4 linked regions of the Homo sapiens genome follow. The protein of the gene in region 4 interacts with the protein of the main gene of each other region in a pairwise test. Each region holds a gene or a part of one and is shown on either strand. Other genes may lie near its edges. The genes, in order: EYA3, NETO2, ZNF232 and ELAVL4.

Region 1 (7,619 bases), about 22 Mb from region 4:
AATAATCAAACCAAACCAAAATAAGAAAACTTGGTAAGCCTAAAACTAATATGCAGAAACATATTTTAAATTGAGCCCTTAGGGCTACCAACTAAAGTAGAAATTTTTGTAGAAAATCAACGGTAATTTTTTTTCCTGAGCTTTAAAAACAAACACACATTAAGCTGTCTCTGGGTTTGTTTGTTTGTTTGTTTGTTTGTTTTGGTTTGGCAGCTAGGTGGAGGGTCAGGCTTGAAGATCAGCAGCATGGAACACAACTGCTCCAATGACTACACAGGATGCTCATTTCATTTAATGGCTTCAATGCAGAATATACAGGCCAAAGTCATTTTAGAAGAACAAAAGACTCCTAAAACTTTTCAACTTCTACTTCTGCACAAAACAGTTTCTTTCTCTAGTCACTCTTTGAAGGCAAAATGACTTCGGCTTTGGATTTTAAAATCCATGTCACAGATTTCTTATCCTAATAGTCTCATTCATATATGACATATACTGAAATGACCCACTAAATACTATATTGTGCTTTCCAGCCTACAGCTTTAATGGAATTAACACTCGCTACTCTTGAGAGCATGTATAGGACTTCTTGACTTAAAAAAAAATGACCTTGGAAATTAACTGTTTAAGTTGTAATTTCTTTTTTTTTTTTAAGAGAGTCTCACTCTGTTGCCTTGTGGAGCGCAGTGATGTGATCACAGCTCACTGTAACCTCAAAATCTTGGGCTCAAGCAATCCTCCAACCTCAACCTCCTGAGTAGTTGGGACTACAGGCGCACACCACTACACCAAGCTAATTTTGTCTATGTTGCCCAGGTTGGTCTCGAACTCCTGGCCAATCCTCTGGCCTTGGCCTTCCAAAGTGCTGGGGATTATAGGTGTGAACCACCATGCCAGACCTAAACCCTAATTTCTTTATGTTTTGTAAATAAGAGTGCCACTTCTTACTAGTGACAATGGTATATAATCTTTATAACTAGATTTTATTATTTTCTATTGTTTTGAAGACAGAGTGATTTCCCATCATTTTTGGGGTTTAATGTTCTTATCTTAATCTGCATTAATTAAGCTGGCATTCCCATGGCTTAAATGAAGCCCACAAACCTGAAGGTAAGGAAGCAGCTGGAGTAAGCCATACACATTGGGGTTTGTTTTGAAGGATGGAAAATAGGCCAGGTTGGACAGAAGCTAGAGCTAGGTAGTGGGGAGGAGGTACACATAAGAAACTTTCAAAGAGGCTTCACTTAGCAGTTAGATAAGTCCTGAAAGCCAATCAGAAGGGTCCTTCTCCGTGGCTTCTAGGACTAACATGGCCAAGCTCCAAAGTCCTTTGCTAAAAACAGCTGAAGAGAGCCCAATTTTGGAATAAGCCAAGGACTATACACTCTTATATGTATATGTATCATATAATGAAGATTTTTCTATAGCTAATTAGCCAAAAGATAAGCAGGTGCTCAAAGCTGTATTTAAGTTCATACTGAAGTACTACATTTTAAAGCACAATTTATAGATTACAGAAACTGATGACACAAAAACCGCTGCAATCAAGTGCTAGATATACACTATAAACATCGGGAAAAAATAAAGATTACCCAAGCCTATACTCTAGATCACAAAATTTGGGAAAGGGAGCACTAACCATTATTAAATGCAATTCCTTCATGTTATAAATGACTTTAAACCTCTAGGGAAATTTAAGAAAGGTGCCCTAAATCTCAAAATGAGAAAATGATAGTTTTACTACAAAGGTGGAAATGGTAAGGAAAAAAAAATACAAAAGTTAGAAGAATATTCTAAGTAATGTACTTCTAAGTAATGTAATTCTAAGTAAAGTCTGGCTAATGAAGGAAGAGGAAGACAAATAGAAAACTTAATACAGTAAAAATGAAAAAATGCATATGTGCATACTAAGTTTAAAGATTACTTTGAAATTACTATAGTGAACTCTTCAGCAGACCACTTTTCGGAAACAACACAATAAATTCATAAATCTGGGGCTAATGATCTCTCCACAAATTCTGTCCTCTATCATCACAAGTGTCCTGTAAGAAGCGTCCATGCCGAAAACAGAGCTGAACGTCCCAAAATATTGGCGTTTTTGCCTCAGCTGTGCACATCCATTCTCATGGGAACACAAAACTGACAGAACTTCTTCATGACTTGTCAATTAACAAGATCGCGCCAGCCCAACTGCTAGCAGTACCGTGTGCCTGCCACCTGTTAGCTGCTCTTGAGAGAGCCCCAAAACTGAGGTAAAGCGAAGAACTAGGAACGCCTTTGTTGTACCCTAACTATGGAAGCTACCAGAGTTCAGTCTAACCCGGCGCCTTAAGGCAAAACTTCCCCCAGGCTGGGGAAGTCTTCCCATTTCGGGGCTTTGGCAAAGCTCTCCTCTAGCTAAGGACAGGCAGAAGAACCCCAGGAGAAGCACTGTCACCTACTGGTCCCAGGAGGAAGGATCAAAGCTGAAGAAAGTTGGGGGACAAGGAACTAGGACCCTAGGGAGAGGCTCAGTTTCTCGTGGTGAAGAGTGAGCACAATGAGAAGCTGGGCCGTCTCGCTAGGTGAAAGAACGCTGAGATCCCAGATCAGGGGTAGGGGAAAAGAGGTTCTAAAAGAAGGGAGGAGGAGAAAAAAGGAGAGGCAGTGGCTGAGAGAAGCGCTGAGGCGTAAGGCAAGAAACCGAGGTTGGAAAAGGACTGATGAGGCTGAGGAAAAACAGCGAGGCGACAGAGGCACGGAAGCGCGAGAAGGCTAAGCTGAGGTGAATAAGGCGAGGCCAGCGTGAAGGAAAGGGCTGAGGTGAGTGAAGCACTGCAGTGACAAGGGACAGGCGAAGAGACTCCCACCCACAAGGACCGAGGCAGAACTCTAGACCCATCCCCCTTCACGCTGTGCTCGCCCGGCTGCGCTCAGACCCTGTTGGCAGCTGAGACTCACCCAAAGGCTGTAAAAGCCCCACAACAGGACATGGAGATCAGTCCAGACCCACAGTAGAACCAATCGAGCGGAGGAAACCGCGGCGTTAGCGTGACCCGGATGCGCATCGCTAGGAACCGGAAGTAAGCGGCCAGAGTCACCTCACAATCCACACCTCGTTCCACTAGAAACCTCTGGGCGCATGTGTTGAGTCTGACCGGGCGGGGAAGCTTTTAGGCTCCGCCCACTCCGCCGGCCCGGCGAGCCACGCCCATGGCCACGCCCCTCTTAGTGCCTCGGAGACAAGCAGCTTCTGGGTGAGCGCTAGGCAGTCCTGACGGTACTACAGCCTTCACTTTTAAGGAGGTCTTTAAAAATGCGCGTAATCCCTACCTGGCTAAAAGGAACGTAAGAAGTGTTGGGTGCATTTGGTAGATTTAGAAAAACTGGGAAGGAGAATGAGTGGGAAGTTTTGGAAGACATTTGGGAGGCTAGCCCAAGGTGATCTTTTTTTTTTTTTTTTTTTGAGACGGAGTTTCGCTCTTGTTGCCCAGGCTGGAGTGCAATGGCGCGATCTCGGCTCACTGCAACCTCCGCCTCCCGGGTTCAAGCGATCCTCCTGCCTCAGCCTTTCGAGTAGCTGGGATTACAGGCATGTGCCACCACGCCCGGCTAATTTTGTAGTTTTAGTAGAGACGGGGTTTCTCCATGTTGGTCAGGCTGGTCTTGAACTCCCGACCTCAGGTGATCCGCCCGCCTGGGCCTCCCAAAGTGCTGAGATTACAGGCGTGAGCCACCGCGCCCATCCCTTTTTTTTTTTCTTTTTTTGAGACAGAGTCTTGCTCTGTCGCCCAGGCTGGAGTGCAGTGGCGCGATCTCGGCTCACTGCAACCCCCGCCTCCTGGGTTCAAGTGATCCTCCCACCTCAGCCTCCCGAGTAGCTAAGACTACCGGCGCGCACCACCACGCCCGGCTAATTTTTGTATTTTTCGGTAGAGACGGGGTTTCGCCATGTTGCCCAGGCTGGTCTCCAACTCTGGAGCTCGGTTGATCCCTTGGCCTCCCAAAGTGCTGGGATTACAGGCGTGAGCCCCAAGGTGATCTTTTTATCCCCAAATTTAGTTTATTCTTAATATTATATTAGGCTTACAATTCACTTCGTGCACACTGTTTTCGGAAGCAAAATTCTTAAATGTTTCGTTAATTTTAAATTACAACCCAAGTATGGGCTAGAAGCAAGGTTGAATTCAGGCTTTGTGGAGACTTGACGTTTATTCAATTTGGGGGCCCTCTTTAAAATAATCAAGGCCAGGCACAGTGGCTCATGCCTGAAATCCTAGCACTTTGGGACGCCGAGGTCGACCGGTTGCTTGAGCCCCGGAGTTGGAGATCACCTGGGCAACAAAATTAGACCCTGTCTCTACAAAACAAACAAAGCAAAACAACAACAAAAAAAACCCAGAAAAATTAGCCAGGTGTGGTGGCACGCACCTAACTGAGCCCAGGAGGTAGAGGCTGCGGTGAGTTATGATTATGCCACTGCACTCCAGCCTGGGCAACAGAGCGAGACTGTCTAAAAAAAAAAAAAATCCAAAATTACAAATACAATATTAGATATAAAAGTGAACCTTTTATAATGAGAAAAATTACAAACATTTTTATTAGCTCACAAATACCACGAATAACAAAATCCAGAAAAAAAACTATTTTTTCTACATTTTTTGACTGTATATTTGATCACCTCTTCCGATGACAACAATGTACTAAGCAACATCATTTACTAAGATCCTTAACTCCTCTCTCATATCCCACATGTACTCCATCAGCAAGTTCTGCAAGATTTGCCTTCAAAATCTGTCCAGAACCTGACCATTTACTGCCTCCGTTGGTATAAACCAGTCAGTCAGTGACTGTGAGTGCCCTATTTATACTCTTGCCTTCCCACAATCTTTTTTTTTTTTTTTTTTTCAGACAGAGCCTCCCTCTGTCACCCAGGCTGGAGTGTACTGGCCTGATCTTGGCTCAGTGCAACCTCTGCCTCCTGGGTTCTCCTGCCTCAGCCTCCTGAATAGCTGGGATTACAGGGGCCCGCCAGCACGCGCGGCTAATTGTTATATTTTTAGTAGAGACGGGGTTTTGCCATGTTGGCCAGACTGGTCTTGAACTCCTGGCCTCAAGTGATCCACCCGCCTCAGCCTCCCAAAGTGCTGGGATTACAGGTGTGAGCCTCCACGCCCGGCCCCCACAATCTATTAATATAGTAGCAATGGGCTCCTGTTAAAACCCTAATTAGATCATATCCTTCCTCCAATGCATTCCTATTTCAGAGTAAAAACCAAAATCCTTACATTGGTCTACAGGACCCTCAAGATTTGACACCTCCAGTACAGCTCTGCTCTAACCTCAACTCCTACTCCTTCTGTCATCCTTCCCCTTAAAGCACATTGGCCTCTGCCATTCCTCAAAACTACAGGTAGGCCCAGGGCCTTTGTGCTTTTTAATCCATCTGCCTGGAGTGCTCTTCCCCCAGATACCTGCATCATTCATCCGCTCACCTCATTTACATCTTTATTCACATGTCACTTTCTCAATGAGATCTTCCCTGACACTACATTAAAAATTGGAACACTACCATCCTCTTTGTACTTTCCCATCCAACAAGTTGCTTGTAAATTTGGCTTAGTGTCTCTCTCCCCCTGCCAGAATGTAAGTTCCATGAGTCCATGGATGTTTGTCCGATTTGTTCACGGATGTTTTTTCAGCACCAGAATGGAGCCTGGCACACTGTAGGCACTCAGTAAATGTTTGTTGAATGAAGGGCTAAATTGCTCATTTACTTTGGTTTTCCTGATCTGAAACCCTGCAAACTGAGCCACCACCTCCACCAGAGGGAGCCCATGAGTAATCAATGCAATAGCTCCAGAAAAGTTATGCCTAAAGCATTTACATACATATACACTCTGTTTAAGGACAGGAATATGTTCTGAGAAATCCCTCGTTAGGTAGTTTCATCATTGTGCGAACATCGTAAAATGGACTTATACACACCTAAGCTATATGGTATAACCTATTGCTCCTAGGCTATAAATCTGTATAGCATATGACTGTACTGAATACTGTAGGCAATTGTAACACAATGGCAAGTATTTGTGTATTTAAACATATAAAAACATAGAAAAGGTACAGTAAAAATATTAAATAATCTTATGGGACCACCATCATATATGCATTCTATCATTTACCAAAATATCATTATGTGACAGCTATGATTCTAAAACAGAGCTACAAGAAAGCATGCAAATTCCTCCCCAGAGCAGAAGCTGTACCTTGCTGGTGCTCTAGTGTCTTTACAGTCATTTAAGAATAAAATCCAGGCTGGGCGTGGTGGCTCACGCCTATAATCCCAGCACTTTGGGAGGCCGAGGCAGGTGGATCATGATGTCAAGAGATCGAGACCATCCTGGCCAACATGGTGAAACCCCGTCTCTACTAAAAATACAAAAATTAGCTGGGCATGGTGGCATGTGCCTGTAATCCCAGCTTCTCGAGAGGCTGAGGCAAGAGAATTGCTTGAACCAGGACCTGGGAGACGGAGGTTGCAGTGAGCTGAGATCGTGCCACTGCACTCCAGCCTGAGCTACAGAGTGAGACTCTGTCTCAAAAATAATAATAATAATAATAATAATAATAATAATAAAATCCAAAGGCCGGGCACGGTGGCTCCCATCTGTAATCCTAGCACTTTGGGAGGCCGAGGCAGGCAGATCACCTGAGGTCAGGAGTTCAAGATCAGCCTGGCCAATATGGTGAAACCTCATCTCTACAAAACATACAAAAATTAGCCAGGTGTGGTGGCAGGCACCTGTAGTCCCAGCTACTTAGCAGGCTGAGGCATGAGAATCACAGGAGGCAGAGCGTGCAGTAAGCCGAGATGGCACCACTGCACTCCAGCCTGGGTGACAGAGTGAGAGACTCCATCTCGAAAAATAAACAAATATATAAAATAAAATAAAATAATAAAAATAAGACCTCTAATTTATATATTTCCATTTTGAAAAGACATGATGAATGTATGATCAGTGTTTTATAATAGCTATTAATTTAAACCCTCCTGATTGACATATATGAAGTACAATGGTCTGGATTTTATTTCTGTTGATGTTCTATATTGTACTTGAGGCAATTTCTTATGATATACATGATCGTTGACCTTCTAAAAGCAATCAGTAGTTGGTAGGATTGTAAAATGGTGCAACCTTATGGAAAGCCATATGGTGGTTCCTGAAAAAAATTGAAAATAGAACTAACGTATGATCCAGGAATCCCCTTCTGGGTATATATCCCTAAGAATTGAAAGCAGGATCTCCAAGAGATATTTGCACACCCATGTTCATGACAGCACTATTCACAATAGCTAAGAGATGGAAGCAACCCAAATGTTCATTGATGGATGAATGTATAAACAAATTTGGTATACATACAATGGAATACTATGCAACCTTAAAAAGGCAGGAAATTCTGTCTGGGTGCAGTGGCTCATGCCTGTAATCCCAGCACTTTGGGATGCTGAGGCGGGTGGATCACGAGGTCAAGAGATCGAGACCATCCTGGCCAACATGGTGAAACCTTGTTTCTATTAAAAATACAAAAATTAGCTGGGCATGGTGGTGTGCGCCTGTAGTCCCAGCTACTCAGGAGGCTGA
Region 2 (7,024 bases), on a different chromosome or scaffold from region 4:
CTGTGTTATGGCTGGTGCACTGTGCACCCCGAAAGAACAGCTTGGCTCTCCAGCCCACTCTGTGACAGTCCTCACTGCCTCTTCAGTGACCGGATGCAGCAGACTGCAACCTGCAGGCAACCTGGGACAAAACGCATTTTTTTCTTTAGTTCATCTTCACTTGAAGATTAATGAATTTGAAAACATAAAATGGTTCTAAGTGTAATAAAATAAAGTTGCCCTTATCATAACTAGGATTATTGTATTTTGGAAGCTAGTGGATAGGAAATGCCAACTTTGCCCCGGAAGGAAATACAGATTCTGTTGGTATAAGTGATCTAAATTATTTGCCACTTCTAGACTTTAGAAATTGAGGCAAGCAAGGAAATCAGAACAAGTTTTTAATTCTAGTTCAAGAGTCAAAATTCTTTTCTATAAAATGCCAAATCTAGGATTAAGCATATTCTCATATGGCCTGGAAGTTCATCTCTAATAAAAATCTACTGCTTTTAAAAAGCTTACACTAGACAGTGCATACTAAACATGCACCCTAGTCATTAGCTTTTTAGGCTTTGGTAGTCATTAAACCAATTGCAAAAATACATTTTTAAAAAGTTAAAGTAAAGCAAATTCAGAGTTTTGAATTATTAGCAGAGGTATATAAAACATAAGTGATTTTGCAGAAAACTAAAATATCCAAGATAATCTTGTTATTTACAGTAACTCAAACTCCAATCATTCTCCAAAACTCAAGAGATATGGCACACAAATATTTAATTTCTAGAATACACGTCTCCTTTAGATTTAAAAAAGATCAAAAAAGCAAGAACACAGGAGCTCTTCCTGCCTAGTATCGAGCCTGTATACTGTTAACAAACATTGCTTAGTAAGAATTCACGGTGCCAAGGAATCATGGCAGCAAAACTGTAGAACACAATGTTACATACATTTAAAGAAAAGGGGAAATATAATGCATTGAAGAAATTACAGAATAAATTACATTTCAATTCAGAATGATTGACAAGCTTACATGGGCTGCTAAACAGAAGTGCTTGACTTTTAAAACGTACAGCTGGGCTGGGCGCCTTGGCTCACTCCTGTAATCCCAGCACTTTGGGAGGCCGAGGCGGGCGGATCACGAGGTCAGGAGATCGAGACCATCCTGGCTAACATGGTGAAACCCCGTCTCTACTAAAAATACAAAAAATTAGCCGGGCATGGTGGCGGGCGCCTGTAGTCCCAGCTACTCGAGAGGCTGAGACAGGAGAATGGCATGAACCCGGGAGGCGGAGCTTGCAGTGAGCCGAGATCACGCCACTGCACTCTAGCCTGGGTGACAGAGCGAGACTCTGTCTCAAAAAACAAAAAAACAGAAAAACAAAAACAGAAGGCCAGGCGCGGTGGCTCACGCCTGTAATCCCAGCACTTTGGGAGGCCGAGGCGGGTGGATCACGAGGTCAGGAGATTGAGACTATCCTGGCTAACACGGTGAAACCCCGTCTCTACTAAAAATACAAGAAATTAGCCGGGCATGGTGTCGGGCGCCTGTAGTCCCAGCTACTTGGGAGACTGAGGCAGGAGAATAGCGTGAACCCGGGAGGCGGAGCTTGCAGTGAGCCGAGATCGCGCCACTGCACTCCAGCCTGGGCGACAGAGCGAGACTCCGTCTCAAAAAAGAAAAAAACCAGAGTACTGGGGTTCTTGAGACACTGGTGCTGAGTTCACTTCTGTGGGCTTCAGTCTTCTCATTCATACACTTGGGCTAGATAGGTCTTTCTTGGATCTTTAAAACCACCAAAAACTCAATGATCCTTCTGGGTCTAATCAGTGTGATTCAAGGCATATTATTTTTAATGTCATATAATTCATGTCACTTGCAATAAAGTGACATGAACAATATATAGCAGACCCCATTTTGCAATAAGAGTATAATCTCCTTTGAGAATTATTCCTGAAATCACAACCAGGCTTCTCCCGTCCCCTCTCATCAGTGAACACACTCCTCAAACAGGGAAGCATTCTTCTCATCAGACATTGGCAGAACCATACAAATGTTCAGAGGCAGACTTTCAGGAGGTTCTTTTAAAGTCTAACAATTCTATGAAACATGACAAAGACACTGACATAAGCGCTGTCGGGTTAAAGGAGTCTTTGAAATCTCTTTTGTGATGTGAAATGTGAACATTCTTTGCCTTTTGTTAAACGTTTAGATTGACACTCTCCCCACACACAAAAGGAATATCACATCTTATTCCTACATGCTTTAGATGTTGGGATTAGTAGGTTTCCTGCAATAGATCTGTGGGCATTTGGGGGATGATGCGGTGAATTGCAGATGGAAGATAATGGTGACAGTATTATACAGGTATACTTAATGCTGTTTCTGAATTGAAGATATTTATCCCTTCCAGATTTGCATTTTGTGTTCAACACTGGGACACTGTGTGGGGTACCCTGCGTGACAGTTAATACTGTGTAATGAATTCCACAAGATTGCTAAATTTCATGTCTTCTGTTATTAAATTTTATGGCTTTCATTTTAGTAAGCAATTTATAAAGTTTTCTCACTGATCTCAAAGATTAAAGGCTGTATATACAGCAATTAGCATTATTCTGGCAATAATGCCTAAGATTTATTAGTTCCATTCTTACCTCTTCCAAAAGCATAGAGAAGTTTAATAAATAAATGAGATCTAATGCCCATCTATGATTCAATGAAGGTGTATAACATGTGACAGGCTAAGGCTGGCTTAGCTATTGATCATCTGGTTCTTTAGTTCTATCCCTGAAAATACAGACTGACCCTAAACCAATGTTCCTAGACGACATTAAGTTGTGCCTTCACTGGGTTAAGAAGCACCATTATAACCTCTGTCTCCATTTTGCATCTTTTTTACATTCTGAAGAAATGTTCCTATATACAGACCCTCATGCTGTAGTTCAAGAGGAAATTAGCCTCTGCACATAAGTTTTTTTACTGTGAAAAGCAAAAAGTGTTTTAGCAGCCAGAAAATTCAGAACCAAACTTACTGTCTAAATGTTACTTGCTACATTGACTCGTATAAAACTGTGTACTTCTATTTTACTGTTATGTCTTCTTTAAAGGCTCTGTATTTTGTAGGCCTCTTCAAGACCTTATAAATAGAAATCAAATTTCAAAAACAAAAATGTAGTTACAAGTGACTATAGTTTAGCATACTGTATTATTTGCTATTATAATCTAAAGATTAAATATAGGTTTAACAGCTATTTTAAAAAATGAATAATTTTACATAGAAAATATGCTAACTTCCCTTTTATCATCATAAGATCATAGTTGTTGTTATATTAAGTATTTATTATGCTGTTCAAATGTTAGCTGGTGTAAGTTACCTACTAAAATGCTTATTCAGCATAACTACTGAAAAAACTTAGCTGTCTCTGGTATTAGTTCATTGAATATTATATGCATCAAGTCTTTTCATGTTTCCACGTTATATTTTTAAAACAAGAAACTAGGCTGACTTAAAAAAATTTAAATCATGAATACATTATGTATAGGTTTTTCTGTCTCCTAAATATTATCTACTTTTTTAAAAAACAAAAATTTTGATACAAGAAAGCACTCTGAGGCAGTATATGTGTATTAAATTTAAGGTCACAATTTTCACTAATCTGAGAAAACACATATATGTAATATTTAAAAGTTAATGAAATCCAGTGAAACTTCAACTTATTTCATTGAGAATTTACTAACAAAATATAGAAAACAAGAATTTACCTCTTTTAAATGGCATGTCTGTATTACTTACAATTTGATAAATGAGTTCCTTTCCATACATACCTTAAGATCCACAACCTTGGTGGCATAAATAACATGATTAAAGGGTCAGGTACAATGTATATTTTAATATGGGATTTGTGTAGTGATTTAGAGCATAAATATCACACAGTGAAAAATTTATCACAAACTAAATACAGTAACAAAAGGAAAGAAAGAGCTTATGTCCACATTTCCAAGGTCTTTACAATAAGTTATAGCGTCCAGGTCCAACACAGCATATTTGCATACAAAGCCACTGATGTGAACACTGAAAGGAATCTGTCCTGTAGGTCTTTCATCTTGATTTAATAAAGTTTGTACAGTATCAAATAATATCAAAAGTCTAAAAAACACAATGAGCTTTTATGTTTATAAATTATTGTTTTTATACCATAAAAAAAGTCAAAAGTGCAGTTTAAAAAAAAGTGGAAGTTGTTATTCTTGATAAGAGCTAGAAAAATGTCATGTCCCAGTTAAGAAGCAATCTCAAGGCTCATCCAATTTCTAAGGAATTTTAACTGGCATCTAACCTTGGTTACCATATGCTGTAAGCAAAACCAACAGAATGGGAGCTATGTAACAATCTAGCGAAGAGAAACATTGCAAATAAATGTAATTATAGGCCTCTCCCAAAGTGAATGAAATGATTCTTTACTGGAATGAATGGGCTGTCACTGAATGTGACTATACTTGGTAAACTTCAAAGGCTTGCTAGAAATTTTTATCTTTTTCAAATTTTTAGTCATAGCTGACAATGGTACATATATCCCAGGATTATGAAATTTTCTAGTATAACTGAGAAAAATATAATTGAAAGGTAATAAATCATATCATCTATTATTTCTCACAGAAAATAAGGAATAAGGGCCCAGTAATTAAAAGGCAGAAGTACAGAGATTAGCCAAGAAGAAACAGATGGGTGAAATACAACTGGGTCTTAATTGGCACAGTAACTAGCTGTATTTTGACACACTCAAGAACAAATGCCTATACTGAAGTATGTGGTACATTAACCACTTGTACTTATGTAAGAAAATGAAATGGTAAAACGATAGGCTTATAAAACAAATTAAATTTAGAGAAAGGAAAAATAAAAGGAATGTAAAGAAAAATCAAGTTTATTGTGGCATCAAAATATTGACAGAGCTGTTATCAGTCAAGAGCAGTCTTCTTGTTGCTAAAACGAAGAGGCAGCCTGAGCCTGGCTCCATCCAACCACCTCTTCTAATGCTCTTTAACTGGCAGTGCTTCCTATAAATGACACCAAGCAATAGAGATGATTATTGTTTCCACTGAATAGAGTAAGTTCCTTGATTGGTTTAACATATATAGACTGCCTGAGAGAATAAAAACATCACCATACAATAGGTTAACGGTAAATCAAGGTCTTCGTAGTTGTGATGGGAGAAAAGGGTTGGCTGCTGGAAACAGTATGGTGCCCTGGAGGCTGCGTACGTACACACCCTAAGAATTCACATCACCATTAGCAGAAGATTAGAAGTCAATGGATATGGATGCTTGTGCAGAATCTTCTCGCCCCCTGACATAAATTTCACAGGGAATCTCCTCCATTACTCGGTCTTCCAGGGCCTGCTCAGGGCACTCATGTCCCTGTTTGAAAGTGTAACTACTTTTCTTGAAGGTGCTATTAAATGTTTTCATTGGCTGTGGTTGTGCAAAGTCATTTCGGAAAGGAAGTTCCATGGAACTGAGGTTGGTCCTGCTTTGTTTGACGCTGGAGGCCTGCGACCCACAGTGGTGGTCGTGGATGCAGCGGGAGGCGGTGGAGGAGCGCCGCATCTTCTGGTAGTTGTCCAATTCTTCCGACAAGTCTGCCAGGTCTGCAGAAATCTCTTTGTCCCTTAGTGAAAACAGTTCATAATGAGGAGGATCAAACACTTCTTGGAACCCGGTTTTATTAAAAGCGGTTTTGCAAGCCATGACCTTTTTTCGAGGCTGTTTCACTTGTACTAAAATAGAAATAATGAGAAGGACCAAGACAATCCCTGAAGTAATGCCAATAATTGTTCCATGAGTCTTAGTGATTTGTTCAAATACTCCTGCTTTTTTCTTTTCTGCAGAAAGAAAATGAGAAACGTTAAGTTTTCAAAATACATTAATATGAATCCTGGTACAAATTAGTAAGGTATTTTTAGGTAAAACAGAATACTTGGGCCAAATATACTACAGACAATGCAATTTACAATTAGGTTTTTAAACAAATAAAACAACCCTATTATAATTTCTGGTTAAAGTTACCAATCGCAGTACTGATAGATTACAGAAGATAAAGTTCTTGGTCCGTTTCTTCAGAAGACACATAAATGCATACATTCTGCAAATCAAATCAAATATACAAATATAGACTATGCCAAATAAATACTCTTGTTCTATCAAGTTTAGCTTTCTGCTTTATGGTAGGTTTGACCAACTGCTGTGTTCAGGTATACCCGCATCTACTGATGACCCCAGGGAGAGCAAACTAACATCATCAGACTAACCCATCCAGTATATTATCATGACCTACTGTTTTTGAATGATTAACTGAAAACACTTCATGTCGAGTATTTACGACAGCCATATCAGATTAGATCACCTTTCCACAGTAAGATATTTATTGAACTCTTACAGCAGGGGTCCTCAACCCCTGGGCCACAGACAGGAACTGGGTATCACTGCAGGAGGTGAGCTGCGAGTGAGCGAGTGAAGCTGCATCTGTATCTGCTGCTGCTCCCCATCACTCGCATTACCCGCAGCACTGCCTCCTGTCAGATCAGCAGTGGCATTAGATTCTCACAGCAGCAGGAGCCCTATTATGGATAACAATAATGGATTATTATTAGTGTGCTTACTTCTGTTAGGAAATAAACTCCTGGCTTGGAGGCAGAAGTCCAATAGAGTAGTATTAAGTATTTCAGTGTAAAGAAACAAACAAAACATATGAAAGTCAAGAAGTGAGGCAGCTTATTATTTTCCCATTCAGTATGACAGAAGCCCAAGTGCATGTGAGGGATATAGGCTGTGAGCTCCTTAGGAGAATCTAATGCCTGATGATCTGTCACTGTCTCTCATCACCCCCAGATGGGACTGTCTAGTTGAAGGAAAACAAGCTCAGGGCTCCCACTGATTCTGCATTATGGTGAGTTGTATGATTATTTTATTATATATTACAATGTAATAATAATAAAGTGCCCAATAAATGTAACGCGCTTAAATCATCCTGAAACCAACCCCCCTGCCCCA
Region 3 (7,593 bases), on a different chromosome or scaffold from region 4:
TATAGTCCCTCTTTCTCCTCTCCCTCCCCACAGAATCCTGCTCCTCACCACTCTTTGGGAAAGGCTGGGTCTCCTTAGGCTGGAGCTGGATGCTCAGTGCTTCCTGGGCTGCTCCCAGAGATTCCTTCTTCTCCCATGGCTCTTCCTGTGCAGGTCCATGTGCAGGGCCTGGGACCTGGAGGTGATCAGGCACCACTCAGTTTAAATTTTCTTCAAATTACTAGTGTGGTTTCTGTCCCCTGCCTGGACACTTGCAGATGTGACCCTCCTTGGACCAAAGCTTCCAAGGAGACTTTAGAGAGCCTCCTCAGAGTCAGCACAAGGGAAGAAGAGGAGCTAGAGTCTCTTTCTCATTCAGGGCTCGAGGGCAGAAAAGACAGACACAGAAACACATACTAACTGCTCTACCTGGCCCAAGAGAGGTTTGAACTTGGCACCTCCCCCTACAGCTGCCCCTCGGTCCAGCCTGAAGGTCATCAATCTGGCTCCCATAACAGACCAAATCCCCCTTCCCACCTGCGGCTCTGGTTCAAGTCCTTTCTCTAAATCCTCCAGCACAGTCACAGCCTCCTCTCCACTCTTAGGGTGATGTCCCCGCACCCAGGATTGGAGCTCCTCAGGCAGGATGGTCAAGAATTGTTCCAGCACCAGGAACTCCAGGATCTGCTCCTTCGTGTGTTTCTCTGGCCTCAGCCACTCACAGCAGAGTACTCGTAGTTGGCTCAAGGCCTCCCGGGGACCAGGAGTCTCCTGGTAGCGGAGATGCCTGAAGCGTTGGCGGAAGATCTCTTGACTGGTAGAGTGGTTCCCAGGTAGCCTGGTCTCATACTCACAAGACTGTTCCTCTTCCTTTGGTCCCATCATCATCATCTTCTCTTGTCCCTGTGTACCCTGAAGGGCCAGAGTTTCAGCTGCTGTTAGTGATACAGCCATCCTAGTCTGCACTAGCTCTGCAGAAGGCTCATACCAGCTGGAATCTTGCAAGGGCCCCCTGTAACATAAGAAGAAATCATTCCTCTTTTTTTTTTTTAAGACAGAGTCTTTCTCTGTTACCCAGGCTGGAGTGCAGTGACATGATCTCAGCTCACTGCAACCTCCACCCCCGGGGTTCTAGCGATTCTCCTACCTCAGCCTCCCAAGTAGCTGGGATTACAGGCGCCTGCCACCACATCCAGCTAATTTTTTTGTATTTTTAGTAGGGACGGGGTTTTGCCATATTGGCCAGGCTGGTCTTGAACTCCTGACCTCAGGTGACCCACCCACCTCGGCCTCCCAAAGTGGTAGGATTACAGGCATGAGCCACCGCGCCCGTCCTCCTCTTCTTTTTTCATTCATTAAACATATACATATACTCAACACTCCAAAGAGCCAAACCCTGTCCTATGCCCTGTAGTCCCGCTTTTTCTTCCACCCCTCCCCAGAATTCTGCTGCACTAAGTCAATGTTTTTGAGAAACTTGCACCGTGGTAGAAACGGGGATGTAAAGTGGTTTTCTATAATACAACTAATTAAATGCCATTGACAGGAAAAATGTATCAAGAAAAAAAAAGTTCTGGGGGCCTATGGGAAGAAATGACTATTGGAAGAAATAAGTTTGAAGCAAAACCCAAGTTTCCAGATGCAGAGCCCAGAGCCGAGCAGCTTTCAGTGCAAGGTGGAATGTGTTGGGGAGGCAGCCTCCTCTGAGATGGCTCCTCCCTGCTTTCAAAAATTTCTGAAGTAGTAGCTACAGCAAAAGAAAAATATAAGTCCCCTTTAAGGAGCTGGATCTCATTCAAATGCCAAAGCCCTATTAAGGGGCAGCTATGAACAAGTCTCGGGTACAGTGGCCTGCGTCAAGGAAATCTAACAGGTGTAAACCAAAAAAGCATCTGAGATAGGTCTCAACCAATTTAGGGGTTATTTTGCTAAGGTTGAGGATGCACCCAGGAAAAAGACACACAAGCCACAGTAGGATCCGTGGCTCGCACTTTTACCAAAGAGGGTTTTGAGGGCTTCAATTTAATGGGGAGAAAGCTGGCAGGAGGGGAAGGAGGAGAGAAGAGGGAGGGTATGTGGTGAGGTAAGTGGCCACATTCTTGTGAGGATTTGATTAGAGCTCACTGAATCCACATGTTGCACGTGAAAAGAGGAAGTCAATTATGAATTTGTCTCGTGCTCAGTAAATCTGCATTTTACACAAGATAAGGTAGACATACAGTAGAGGAAGAAGTCAAATATGCTTTGTCTCTGGGTGGGTGGAGGAACGATTTCTAGTCTTGTCCGGTGAAGCTCGGCTGTTCGTTTCCATTGCCAGGGTGAGGGAGGCCACCTGGGGGCATATGTTGCTTTCTATCTTGCAGCTATCGGTTTAGGAACAAAAGGAAAAGCAGTTTTTTTCCGTGACTCAGTTTCCAAGCTTAACTTTTCCCTTTGTCATAGTAAGTTTGGGGTCCTGAGATTTTATTTTCCTTTCACACAGGGAAGGAGGTGGAACGCATCAGAGGCCACGAAAGGAGCACAAAGGGGGACCGCTGGCCTAAGACAAAGGAGGCGCGAGGAAAAACGCGGAGCTCGCGTCTCCCAGGGTGATGCCCGGCGCCGCTGGCCCCAGCAAAACTTCTCTACCCCGGCCTCGGGCAGGTGCCCGCCCGGGGAGGGGGCTGTCGTCCAGGCCAGGTACAACTCCCCTTCCCACCCTTCACTCCCTACCCAAGGGTCTCGAGAAAAGAGAAGAGGAACATCAAGACCCCCCTCCACGGCACGTGACGCGACGCAACGCAGGTAGCGCAGCGCGGGCACCACGGGCAACCCAAACCCCTCTCCACACACAACCGCGGAGCTGCCTGCCAGGCCTGCTCACTGCAGAGCCGCCGCTGCCTGCGGGACGGGCAAAAGCCAAGCCGCCAGGTGGACCTCGGGGAAGCCGCCGCCAACACTCACCTCACAGGACCAGGAGGTTCCATCGGGGCGCTGCCGCGAATCGCGCCACTTACAGCCCTCACCCCAGGGGCAGGTTTGCGCCTGCGCAGGTCGCAGCCTCGGCCTCCAACTCCCAGAATCCTCCTCGCCGCCGGCTTCCGTTCGCGGACTTTGGCCCAGGCGCGTGGGCGCTGCCGAGAGGCTGGGAGCCCGGGAACCGGTTCCTGGACTTGAGCGGAGCGAGAAAGAGCGCGCCGCCTGCACGACTGGACTGGAGCGGCCGGGTGCCCTGGAGGCCCCTGGGAATTGCAGTCCTTGCGCAGGTGGAGAGTGAGCCCTTGTAAGCGGGTGACTTCATCAAGTTTGGGGGGTCTCTTGTGGAATTGTACCTGAAGGGCGGTGCTGGCGGACAGATGTCAGGGAAATTCTGGCCTTGTCCATGGCCTGTGGTAACACTTCTCCATGAGTTCTATTTTCCAATTACCTCTTCCCAGACCTGATGAGAGGGCCACAGCTAAGGAAGACGGTCCCTTCCACGAAAAAATATTCCCCAACCACTAGCCTGTACAATTCCTGGGGCGTAGGGGGAGGGGAGGAGAAAAAAGAATTCTAAGGTTAATTTTATTGCGATGGGGGAAATAGGGGTTGGTGTTTTTTTGTTGTTGTTATTTTTTATTTTATTTATTTATTTGAGACGGAGTCTTGCTCTGTCGCCCAGGCTGGAGTGCAGTGGCGCGATCTTGGCTCACTGCAAGCTCCGCCTCCCGGGTTCACGCCATTCTCCTGCCTCAGCCTCCTGAGTAGCTGGGACTAGAGGCGCCCGCCACCACGCCCGGCTAATTTTTTTTTTTTGGTAGGAGACACGGCGTTTCACCATATTAGCCAGGATGGTCTCGATCTCCTGACCTCGTGATCCGCCCGTCTCGGCCTCCCAAAGTGCTGGGTTTACAGGCGCCCGGCCGATTATTTTTTATTTTTTTTTTGAGACATGGTGGCCAACATGGTGAAACCCTGTCTCTATTAAAAATACAAAAAGGTTAGCTGGGCGTGGTGGCGGGCGCCTGTAGTCCCCACTACTCAGGAGGCAGGAGAATCGTTTGAACCCGGGAGGCAGAGGTTGCAATAAGCTGAGATTGTGCCACTGCACTCTAGCCTGGGCGACAGAGTGAGACTCCGTCTCAAAAAAAAAATTAATTAAAAATAAATTTATCTCACTATCAATTTTGCAGGATATTGATTGATCCAGTCTCTCAATACTTTTATAAAATAGCTTAATCCTAGTCTCTCCAAGAAAAATTGTTGTTCAACTGTGTAGTACCATAGTAACAGTTCTCAGATTCTCAGATTATTAAATTTGTTTCTCCAAGATATAGTATCCTTGAAAATGCGCATTGACACCCCCATGGCTGGGGGATATATTATCTTTTTTCCTTCAAAGTGCCATTGATAATTACTGCACGTAGGAGCTATGGATAAAAATAGTTATCATTTGTTGAATGTCTACTACGTGTCTAGAACTATGCCAGGAACTTAATGAAATTGTCTTATTTAGTCTTCACAGTTGCTCCACAAGGGATTGTATTAATGTCATTATCTTGATTTTACAGATGAGAAAACTCAAGACTCAGAAACAATAAAGGTTACAGAGATGAAATTGACAGAGCCTGAATTTCAGTATGTCAAACTTCAATGTGCCATTATACTTTTAAATCCTACAGAACAGATTGAATCACAACTTCTACTTTTACATGAGAGAAGACAATGGGTCCTATGACTTACTGTCAGTTTCCTTTTCCTGATTTAATTAGCTGCTTCTGTATCTAATTTTGCTAGGAATGGAGGAATAAGGCAAATTCCCTAAACTACATATTGACATTTATACTAATGTGAAAACCTCAAGTCCATTTGCAGACTTTTGGATTAGATTCTGTCCCAGAAAGACATCCACCCTAGAGTTCAGGATATCATACCCATTTTACTGTTCCCCTGGCACAATTCATAGTAAGGAAAAACAGACAAGGGGAAAGCTATTAGATTCTCGGTGCTGCTAAACAGGACACACAAGGACACCATTTTGTGATGATGATGGTGCTTTATGCAGCTTCCACCATTTACAAGATTTTCCTGTGGTGTGGAACCTCTCATGATAAAGCAAAGGAACTAGAAGCTTATTCCAGTCAAGATTTCTGATTTATCTTGTGGTAAGCATTTGGGAAGGACATATCTGCACATGACCTGAGACTAAGTACTATACACTGAATCAGATGAAAATTGCTCTTAGGAAGCTTACAATTTTCCAAATAGTTAGGACAAAAACAAACTCTCCTTCTCTCTTCCTATATGTACATACTGACATCTTTATCATTACTGTCTTCCTAGGGTTATGATTCTGTATGGTTTCTTTGGTGCTGCATTAGACCTGAGCTCTGATTGAAAATTCTTCCACGCTCGCTACATTCCAAAACTTTATCTCCAATATGAATTTCCAGATGCCTCACAAGGTCTGAGCTCCATCTGAAGGCTTTCCCATGCTTGTCACATTCATAGGGCTTTTCTCCACTATGAATTCTATGATGTCGAATAAAGTGTGAGCTCTGATTACAAGTCTTTGAACATTCATTGCATTCACAAAGTTTCTTTCCACTGTGAATTCTTTGATGCTGAATAAGTTGTGAGCTCCCCTTCAAATCTTTCCCACACCCAATGCATTTATAAGGCCTCTCTCTCACCTTGTATGGATTCTCTGATGTTCTGTAAGGACTGAGTTCTGGCCAGGCGCAGTGGCTCACGCCTGTAATCCCAGCACTTTGGGAAACCGAGGCGGGTGGATCAGCTGGGCTCAGGAGTTCGAGACCAGCCTGGCCAGCATGGTGAAAGCCCCTCTCTACTAAAAATACAAAAATTAGCCGGGTGTGGTGGTGGGTGCCTGTAATCCCAGCTAATTGGGAGGCTGGGGCTGGAGAATTACTTGAACCTGGGAGGTGGAGGTTGCAGTGAGCCGAGATCGGGCCACTGCACTCCAGCCTGGCAGCAGTGTGAGACTCCGTCCCAAAAAATAACAAACAAACAAAAAAGACACCAGAGGGCTTTGGGTCCCTCTCTCTCTGCCATGTGAGGACCCTGTGAGAAGGCAGCCAGGGAGCTCTCACCAGAACCTGACCATGTTGGGCCCTGGTCACAGCCTTGCAGCCTCCAAAACTGAGAAAATAAATTTCTGTTGTCTGGCATCCAGTCTATGGTATTTTGTTACGGCAGCCCGAGCTAAGACAGAGGAAAACTGGGGGCTGATGTGACGGCGGGGACTTTAGGTAGAAGGACCCCACGTCAAAAGTCAAAGCTAAAAATTCTGGAACGAGCCAGGAAGGCATCAGGACGTCTCATTTTATTTGCTAGAGGCATCTTTTGGGGGGTGGGGCGGTGGGTGGGTGGAAGGAGATGTGGCCAGTGAGCCTCTGACTTTTAATTGAGTTATTTCGAAACAAGGAACAGAGGGCCGGATGTGGTGGGTCGTGCCTGTAATTCCAGCACTTTGCGAGGCCGAGGCCAGTGGATCACCTGAGGTCAGGAGTTCAAGACCAGCCTGGCCAACATGGTGAAACCCTCTCTCTACTAAAAATACAAAATTAGCCTGGCGTGGTGGGGGGCGCCTGTAATCCCAGCTACTCGGGAGGCTGAGGCGGGACAACAGCTTTAACCCGGGAGGCGGAGGTTACAGTGAGCCGAGATGGCGCCACTGCACTCCGGCTTGGGCAACAGAGCAAGACTCCGTCTCCAAAAACACACACACACACACACACAAAACCCAAAACGGAACAGAGGCAGTTCTGTATTCCAGAGGGATTGATTTGTGATGCCTGCTCAAAACTCAAGAAGCCACCACCCTGATACTCATCAAACCCCGGAGAAATTTCGTTTTTAGAGTGTCAGAAGGCCCCATGAATAACCTTCCAGTCACTGAGGGAGGTCCCTACTCAGCACGCCCCGGTCTCCTTCACTCTCCTGCACTCGTGCCTCACAGATGGCCTCATGCGCGGACTGGCGGTCCAGCCTCCCGGGGACACAGCCCGGGCGCACCCCGCGCCGCCTTTGGCCACTGAGGCGGTCCTCGAGGCGCCGGGCTAGGGAAAGCCTCCCCGGCCGTCAAGGCTGGGATAGCGCCGGGGGATCGGGGCGGGGTGCGTGCGCCGAAAGGGCCTCAAAGCTGTAGGGCTGGACGGCACAAAGGGGCGCAAGGCACGGAGGCCAGGCAGAGGGGACAGCTAGCGGCGCGGCGGGACGGGCGGGCCCCGACGCCCAGCTCCAAATGCGTGGCCGCTGTGGGAGCTCGTCTCCAGGCGCCCATCAGTCTTCCCCTCACTCGACGCTACCTTGGCGGCCGCGCCCATGCTGTCCCCGCTCCAACTAGCAGTCAGGAGGGGCCGCGGGCAGCGCTCGAGACGCTCATTGAGAGGACTTCCCGCCTGCGGGCTCTCTGCTCGACGCCACTCCCGGCCCCGCTCCGGGCGGCCCCCCTCACCACTCCCGGCCCCGCTCCCGGCGGCCCGCCTCACCACTCCCGGCTTCCCGGGGCTTAGGCCCGCACCATCGAGTCGAACCGAGTCCTCATGTTTTCCTAGACAAGCCGCTGGGGGAGAGGGGAAACACTTCTGGCCCATGTGAGCCGCCGTCTCGTGTGGTGTCTGAGGGGCGTCT
Region 4 (7,024 bases):
GTGTCTTTAGAAAACAAGGAACAACACCATGAATCAGTACTTCTCAAAAATCTCGCTACAGTTCTGAAGGAATTCTGAAAAGGTGATTAATAATATTCACTAATATAGCTGGCAGAGTCTGTATTTTGAAGGTAAGGCTATACTAAAAATACATTTTCTATATAGGAGTAGGAGGAAGAATCATATGGTTAACTGGTTTTAATTTGGTTTGAATTATCATCCTATTATATAAAGATTATTCAGGAATCTAAATATTGGCTTTCTGAACGTATGGGAAATTCTGTTTAAGGATAGATGTTCCAGTGCTCTGGTACAAGATAATCAAAGCCTGGCCCTATTTGGAGAATTTGATAGATACTTTTTTTTCTGTTCTGGCCACTTTCCTTGAAGCATACTAGCTGTACTTACAATAATAGATTTATTTACTGAGGGACCACTGTGCAGTAGACATTGTGCTAGATGCAATATATCTAGTCTCTCATTTAATCCTCACAATAAGCCCTTTGAGACAAGCATTATCTTCCAGTTTTTCAAATAAGAAAATTATGTCTGGAGTGTTAGGTGACTTGTATTTTGGAAAGTAGCAGTGGTATTTAAGTTTTATGATTTTGCAAACTACTTAATTTATAAGGGGAACAGATTTACATGTGAATTATGAGAACAGAAGAATGTATATATCTACACACACACATATAGAATGTATTCTCTGATTTAAAATAAAGATGATGTATATCCCTATTTTAATGATGCAGCTTCCTTTTTAAAAAAAAAAAAACTCTAGGACAGTTGCTGATTAATTAAACTGTCTAGGGAAAGGGAAACAAAAGTCAATACTCAAAACTGACAAGTATTCAAAGTTGGATATGAATGATTTCAGGAGTGGAGTATCAGAGAGTAGCAGCTTCACTGCCATCATTATGTAGCCTAATATATTCCAAGAAAATATTCTCACTGCCAATAAGATTATAGGGAAACTTTCCCCCAAAGAATTATAGTGTCAGTGTCTGGCAAACATTTGGTTCTCAATGAACAGTTGTCAATTAGGAGAAAATCAGAACCTAAAAATCTCATGTATTGAAGTTGTATAGGGTGTTGATTCACTTTCAAGTAAAAATGCCCTCACATCTCAAAGAGTATCTTCAAAACGAACAGACAGATAAAATAAAACAAAATACCTCAAATGCAGATCTTCATTAAGCATTTCCCTCCTACTGCAGAGTAGTTGTATTCCAGAATAATCTGCTATCCTTAGGGCCTGTTTCTCCCCAGGGACAAGGGCAGTTGTGTCAACTGTCCACACATCCACAGTGGCCCCCTTTAAAACACTTGTTTCAGGCACATGGAAGAACACTGGGCACACATGAAGCAAATATTGAGAGGAGGAGAATACATGAGCAAAAACTAGTGTATAGTATAGGGAGGGCAGAGTTGTGGGACTGGAAACTATAGAACAAAGGGAAGGAATGGCTGATTAAGAATAAAAGGAGACAAAATCAAAGGATCATTTTACATGAAGATGAAGATGTACCAAAATCTTCATCTGCTCCCCAGCAGTACCAATCTACAATAAGGTCTTATGTGGTGTATGTAGTGTGAGTTTATGACTGTGTATCCATGCCATCTTGCATGCAGGGTACATGATATAGACATTCAGGTGCACCATCACACATGTGCATTTCTGCTAAGATCTGCACATCTAATGGAACAACATAGCTTCAAATCCTGTGCATACCTGTAATTTTGTCTCTCACAAGTTTGCAGGATTCTATTTCACCAATGCTCCCGAAGAGACTCCTGAATTCTTCTTGGGTCATATTCTGGGGTAAATAGTTGACGATGAGGTTGGTTTTGCTGTCATCTGTGGTTGCCCCTGTTTGCATGGGAGAAGGACAGTTTCTGTTGTTGCTGGAGGGTCCATTGCTTGTATTGGATGTCGGACCATTTGACACCTGAGGCTCCATGGTGCTAATTATCTAAATAAAAATAAAAACAATTGAAAAAGCCTTTTGAAATCTCAGACACAAAGTCTCTTTTAAAAGTTTATTAATTTTTTTGAAAAGAAAGAGAAGAAGATAAAGCAAGATGGAGCAAGAGACTGGGTTGTGAACACAGCCAATTTAGAAGCATGTTTTTAACCAAAATGTTAAACTCCTCTTTCTATTTTTAGGCCAGCCCATAGATTTTGAACACAGACTAGAATGCAGTAGGAACTCTCCCATTATTTTGTTAATGAAAAGCTAATTCCTGTTTTCATTACACAATCACTCTCAGAAATGTATACTTAAGCCACACCAAATTATAATTAAAATGTAAAGTAATAATCATGATTAAAATTATAGTTCCATTAAAGCTGAAAAAGCTAAATATAGAGGACTACACTCACAAGATCAAATACAGTACCTGTTTATTAACTATCTCATAAAATAAAATGACATTAAATTAAGTGGGGTTGTTCAATATGGGAAGGGTTTAAATTTTCACTGATGCTTAATCACTGATCAAATTTTAGATTTTACAGGTACATTCTAGGGAGCTGCAAAGTCATCTAATGTCTTTTTTTTTTTAATCTAGCCATTCTGTTATTGTTTCTCCCAGACCTCTAATAAAACAAAAAACATGGAGGCAAACTTTTCTCTAGGTCTCCACGTTAGGTCCAGCACCGCCTGAGGCTGTCCACTCACATATTACTCAAAAAGGACTTTCTCTTGATTAAAATATTTAATTAAACAAAGATTTCTGGCTGGTGTGAATGTTCCAGGTAGCACGTATGAGAATAAAGAAATGAATGAATCCCTATCCTCAGGGAGCTTATAGTCTATAGAGGACACAGACAGGTAAACAGCTGGTATAGGGCAGTGATCATGCAATACAGAAGCAATTACTTCTGCTTATAGGATAGGGAGATTTAGGGACAGTTCTGAGAAAATGCTGGAATAGGGTTTTATATGAAAAATGAGTTTAAGCTCATGAAGTCAGGTCATGAAGATGCCCTGTATGGAATGACAAACATGGAGAATTGCAAAATTGCAGAGCCAGAAGGCACATAAGGGAACAAAATCTAGCTCAACACTCACATTCGAGATGAAGCCCAGAGATGTCCAGTTACTTCTCTGTTATCATAGAAAAATGGGGGCAAAGTCCAGGCCTGCACCCGGATTTCCTGGCCCCAAACGCAGCCCATAATTCGCAACTTTCCATTTTGTCTTACACCGTCCTCTATTTGTCCATCATAAAATGGCTTCCATCTCCTCAGAAACTGATCATCAACTCCTTGGAAATGAAATCATACTCTGCCACTTACTAGCTGTGTGACCTTGGCAAGGGACTTAAATCCTAAGAGTCTTCATTTTCCTCATTTGAAAAATGGGAACAATGCCACCGTATGGCAAAGCGGTAAGAACCGATCCAGTGATATGACTTATGTAAAGCACCAGAACAGTGGTGGGCACATAACCACAATCACTGATGTTTATTAGTTACTCTGCCAATCATCCAATGTGACTTCTCTCACTGTCTCCTCACAAGAAGGCAATGAAGCATATTCTAATATTCTCTATGTCTTATAGATGAGGAAACCAAGGCATAGCAGACATCTGATAACTAGTAGCTTCCATTATTATTACCATTTGCCTGCTCAGAGGATTTAGGGGGGAAGCATTTTCATTTACTATAACATACATGTAATAAAGTGTATAAATCTTAAGGGTACAACACAAAGAATGTTTACAAAGTGAACACAATTCACAACTGGGTAATTACCTTTCAGATCACAATACAGAACATGACTGGCACCCCAAATGCCTTTCTCAGGTTCTCCATCCCTGTCATTTACCTCACCCCTCAAAGGTAACCACTATTCTGAATTCTAGTCCACAGATTTGTTTTACCTATTTTTTTACCTTTATATACATGGACTCATACAACACATACTCTTTTGTGCCTTTTCACACATGTATGGAGTGTCATCTGCTCTGTTACATGTAACAATGCATTGTTCTTCCCACTGCTATAGCAATTTCCATTGTGTGGAAATATTACATTTTATTTATCTGTTGATGAACATTTGGATTGTTTCTAATTTTGAACTACTATAGATAATGCTGCTATGAGCGTTATGTACAACATTTTGGTACAAAAATGTACATATTTCTATTGGGGATAGTCCTAGGATTCTGTTTTTGGGATCATAGGGTGTATGTATATTTAGCTTCAGTAGATACTGCCAACAGTATTTCAAAGTGGCTGTATCCATTTATATTCCCACCAGCAGAGTATGAAAGTTCCAGTTGCTCCACATCCTCATCAATGTTCAGAGACTATTTTTTGTTTTTGTTTTTGTTTATTTTCTCATCTGAAGCAGAGTGGTATAGTAAAAATGGAATGAGTGTTTGAGTCAAGACAACAGGTGATTTAAAATCTGAGTTCTAGGCCAGGTGCGGTGGCTCACACCTGTAATCCCAACACTTTGGGAGGCCGAGGTGGGCAGATCACCTGAGGTCAGGAGTTCAAGACCAGCCTGACCAACATGGAGAAACCCAGTCTCTATTGAAAATACAAAATTAGCTGTGTGTGTGTGGTGGTGCACACCTGTAATCCCAGCTACTCGGGAGGCTGAGGCAGGAGAATCACTTGAACCTGGGAGGTAGAGGGTACAGTGAGCCAAGATTGCACCACTGCACTCTAGCCTGGGCAACAGGAGTGAAACTCCGTCTCAAAAAACAAAAAAACAAAAAACTTAGTTTTACCACTTATTAGCTGTGTGATCTGAGGCAGGTTACTTCAATACTCTGAGCCTCAGCTTCCTCTTCAGCAAAACTGGAATAAAAAGCTTGCCACGCAGGGTTATCTTCAGGATGAGAGATAATGTACATTAAATGTCTAAAATACAAAGGGCCCAGAGGCATCATAACTATTATTCCTCATCATGCCCCACGTAGGTGAGTGTTATTCTAATTCTTTCATCTTCTGATGGTCACAAATGATAAATGAAACAAAAAGGAAAACATGGCTCAAGAGGAGCCAAGGAAATAAAGCAGACTAAGAAAGATGGGGAGCATCTAAGATTCTTTACCATCATGTAAGTAATTTAAGTGGCTCCACTTCTCCCATCACCAGAATTTTCTTCTTGGCTTCAGGTCAACTTTAGGATTCTAGAAGGCTGGTCCAGACAGCAAGGAGAAAGCAAAAAGCTTCTGAGAAGAATCTTAAATCAAGCTCCCCTCAGGACTGATAGAAGTTGTACCCAGCAAAGCCTATTCAGCCACTTTGCCTTCGAGGCAAGGGTCCAGGAAAAGAATCAGGGAGATGGTCCCCAGGGAAGGAGGCATGCTAAAGGGATGGCATTACAGAGCATCAGCACAACTCCTGGCTAGGAGGCAGGTTTCAGCTCTGCCAAGCTGTGGGGCCTTCTGGGTCTTTGCAGTGCCTCCATTTGCTGTGTTGTCTCACTGCTTCACTGAGTCAGGTGTCCAGGCAACAAACATAAGAAGCACTGCCAACTCGATAATGAACATGAAAATCAGAATTTATCCATTCAGGAGGCCGGACTACTACATTCGATTTAATGGCAAAAACCCCCCAGGCCCACAATCTTTAGAAACTCTTCTCTGTTTTCTACCTTTTTCAGGTTACCCTTCTTTCAGCTCCCCAACAAACACCTAGAAAATATCCCACACCAAGGCAGCTTATTTGGTGCTAGTGATGGAGTATGTGGAAGAATTTCATGTTGAGATTCTGTGGGACCAAAACTCATAAAGGTCACCTGATAGTCAGGTTCATCTTTCGTTTTCAGACACGTGGTGAAAGCCAGCACTTGTCCATGTGAACATCTCACAGGTCCACCTCCTCCAGGAAGGCCTGTGAAGTAACAAGGCTGCAGCAAAGTAATTTCAGTCCCCGCATCAGCTTTGTGGCCTTCCTTGCATTCTATGTGGATTTCCTAATCTATGTTGACTCCAGGAGGTGAGTCCTGTCTGTAGATTAGACAGCCCAACTGGTCCCAACTAGCTTCTAAAAGGAGCCATGAGATACAATGCTCACTACTGAGCTACTTTAGCTGACCACATCTATAAATTAGGTCAAGTCATTCTCATCCAATGTAGATGGAGCTCTCTTTGCTCTGCATCTACACTACACAGTTATTCTTTTGTGTATCCAGAAGGAACTGATGAAAACACACAAATGGACACATACAAAGAGAGTTTTCTCAATAAAAGTGTGCTGTCTGAAAGCTGAGAAACATTTGCAAATGTGTTAATATACATCCTATAATAAGACCCCTCACAGGTCTTAATGATGCATCTTAGGATGCAACACAGGCTGAAAAAAAAAATCAGAAATGTAAAACATCAGAATCAAATCTGACATGTGAATGAAACAAGAGGATTTTAAAACATTACCTGGAAAATAAGAGAAGTTGCCAAGATGTAAAGATATTAAATGCACGAATATGAAACTACAGCATTTTAAGGTTACATGATAGACCTCAAAGACAGGACACCTGTTCTCTCTGCTTGGGAAACAGAGGGACAGAACAGGAGTAGAAAAGATGTGTGTTGGTAGAAAGCACATCCTCCAGTAAGTACAGAGGCTGGCTGGGCAAAATCAGAACACTTGCTTCCTCAGGCTAACGCCTTTGATATTCTAACAGCACAATTTTCATTGCAAATAAATATATCAGTTACTCAAGTGTGCATATGTACTTTAATGAAACATTCTGTGTGGGTCTCACAGCCAACTTTGCAGCTGACCAGGTTCCAAGCCCCTGACTTGCCCTCCTTTCCTCATTTGAATAGCAATTAAGAACAGAATTACAGTCAGCATCCAGGATAGATCATTGAGGAGGTTCAGTTGACTTCGAACTCTAATGGATGTACAAAGCACTACATTAAATCTTTTATGTTTCTGTGATATATTTTAAGAAACATTATACAGGCAGAAAATTTCAGGGATAAACTATTAGAGCGGTGCACAATAACGTAGGCACTCAAATCCTGTCATCGTAAATGTCGATGGTTTGAATGAC

The links.
Region 1: the proteins of ELAVL4 (region 4) and EYA3 interact in binary tests that used the Homo sapiens proteins (3 or more experiments, as listed by UniProt).
Region 2: the proteins of ELAVL4 (region 4) and NETO2 interact in binary tests that used the Homo sapiens proteins (3 or more experiments, as listed by UniProt).
Region 3: the proteins of ELAVL4 (region 4) and ZNF232 interact in binary tests that used the Homo sapiens proteins (3 or more experiments, as listed by UniProt).

Annotation. Positions count from the first base shown.
Region 1 is NC_000001.11:28,085,587-28,093,205, forward strand, and holds the start of EYA3 (protein phosphatase EYA3), read right to left. Parts: upstream 3,025-7,619; 5' UTR 2,938-3,024; intron 1-2,937. UniProt on the Homo sapiens protein: Tyrosine phosphatase that specifically dephosphorylates 'Tyr-142' of histone H2AX (H2AXY142ph). 'Tyr-142' phosphorylation of histone H2AX plays a central role in DNA repair and acts as a mark that distinguishes between apoptotic and repair responses to genotoxic stress.
Region 2 is NC_000016.10:47,077,946-47,084,969, forward strand, and holds part of NETO2 (neuropilin and tolloid-like protein 2 isoform 1 precursor), read right to left. Parts: intron 5,857-7,024; coding exon 5,276-5,856; 3' UTR 1-5,275. UniProt on the Homo sapiens protein: Accessory subunit of neuronal kainate-sensitive glutamate receptors, GRIK2 and GRIK3.
Region 3 is NC_000017.11:5,108,878-5,116,470, forward strand, and holds the start of ZNF232 (zinc finger protein 232), read right to left. Parts: upstream 3,002-7,593; 5' UTR 2,946-3,001; coding exon 2,923-2,945; intron 2,343-2,922; exon of another isoform or gene 2,199-2,342; intron 992-2,198; coding exon 517-991; intron 176-516; coding exon 49-175; intron 1-48.
Region 4 is NC_000001.11:50,139,906-50,146,929, reverse strand, and holds part of ELAVL4 (ELAV-like protein 4), read right to left. Parts: intron 5,159-7,024; exon of another isoform or gene 5,078-5,158; coding exon of another isoform or gene 5,072-5,077; intron 1,974-5,071; coding exon 1,733-1,973; intron 1-1,732. UniProt on the Homo sapiens protein: RNA-binding protein that is involved in the post-transcriptional regulation of mRNAs. Plays a role in the regulation of mRNA stability, alternative splicing and translation.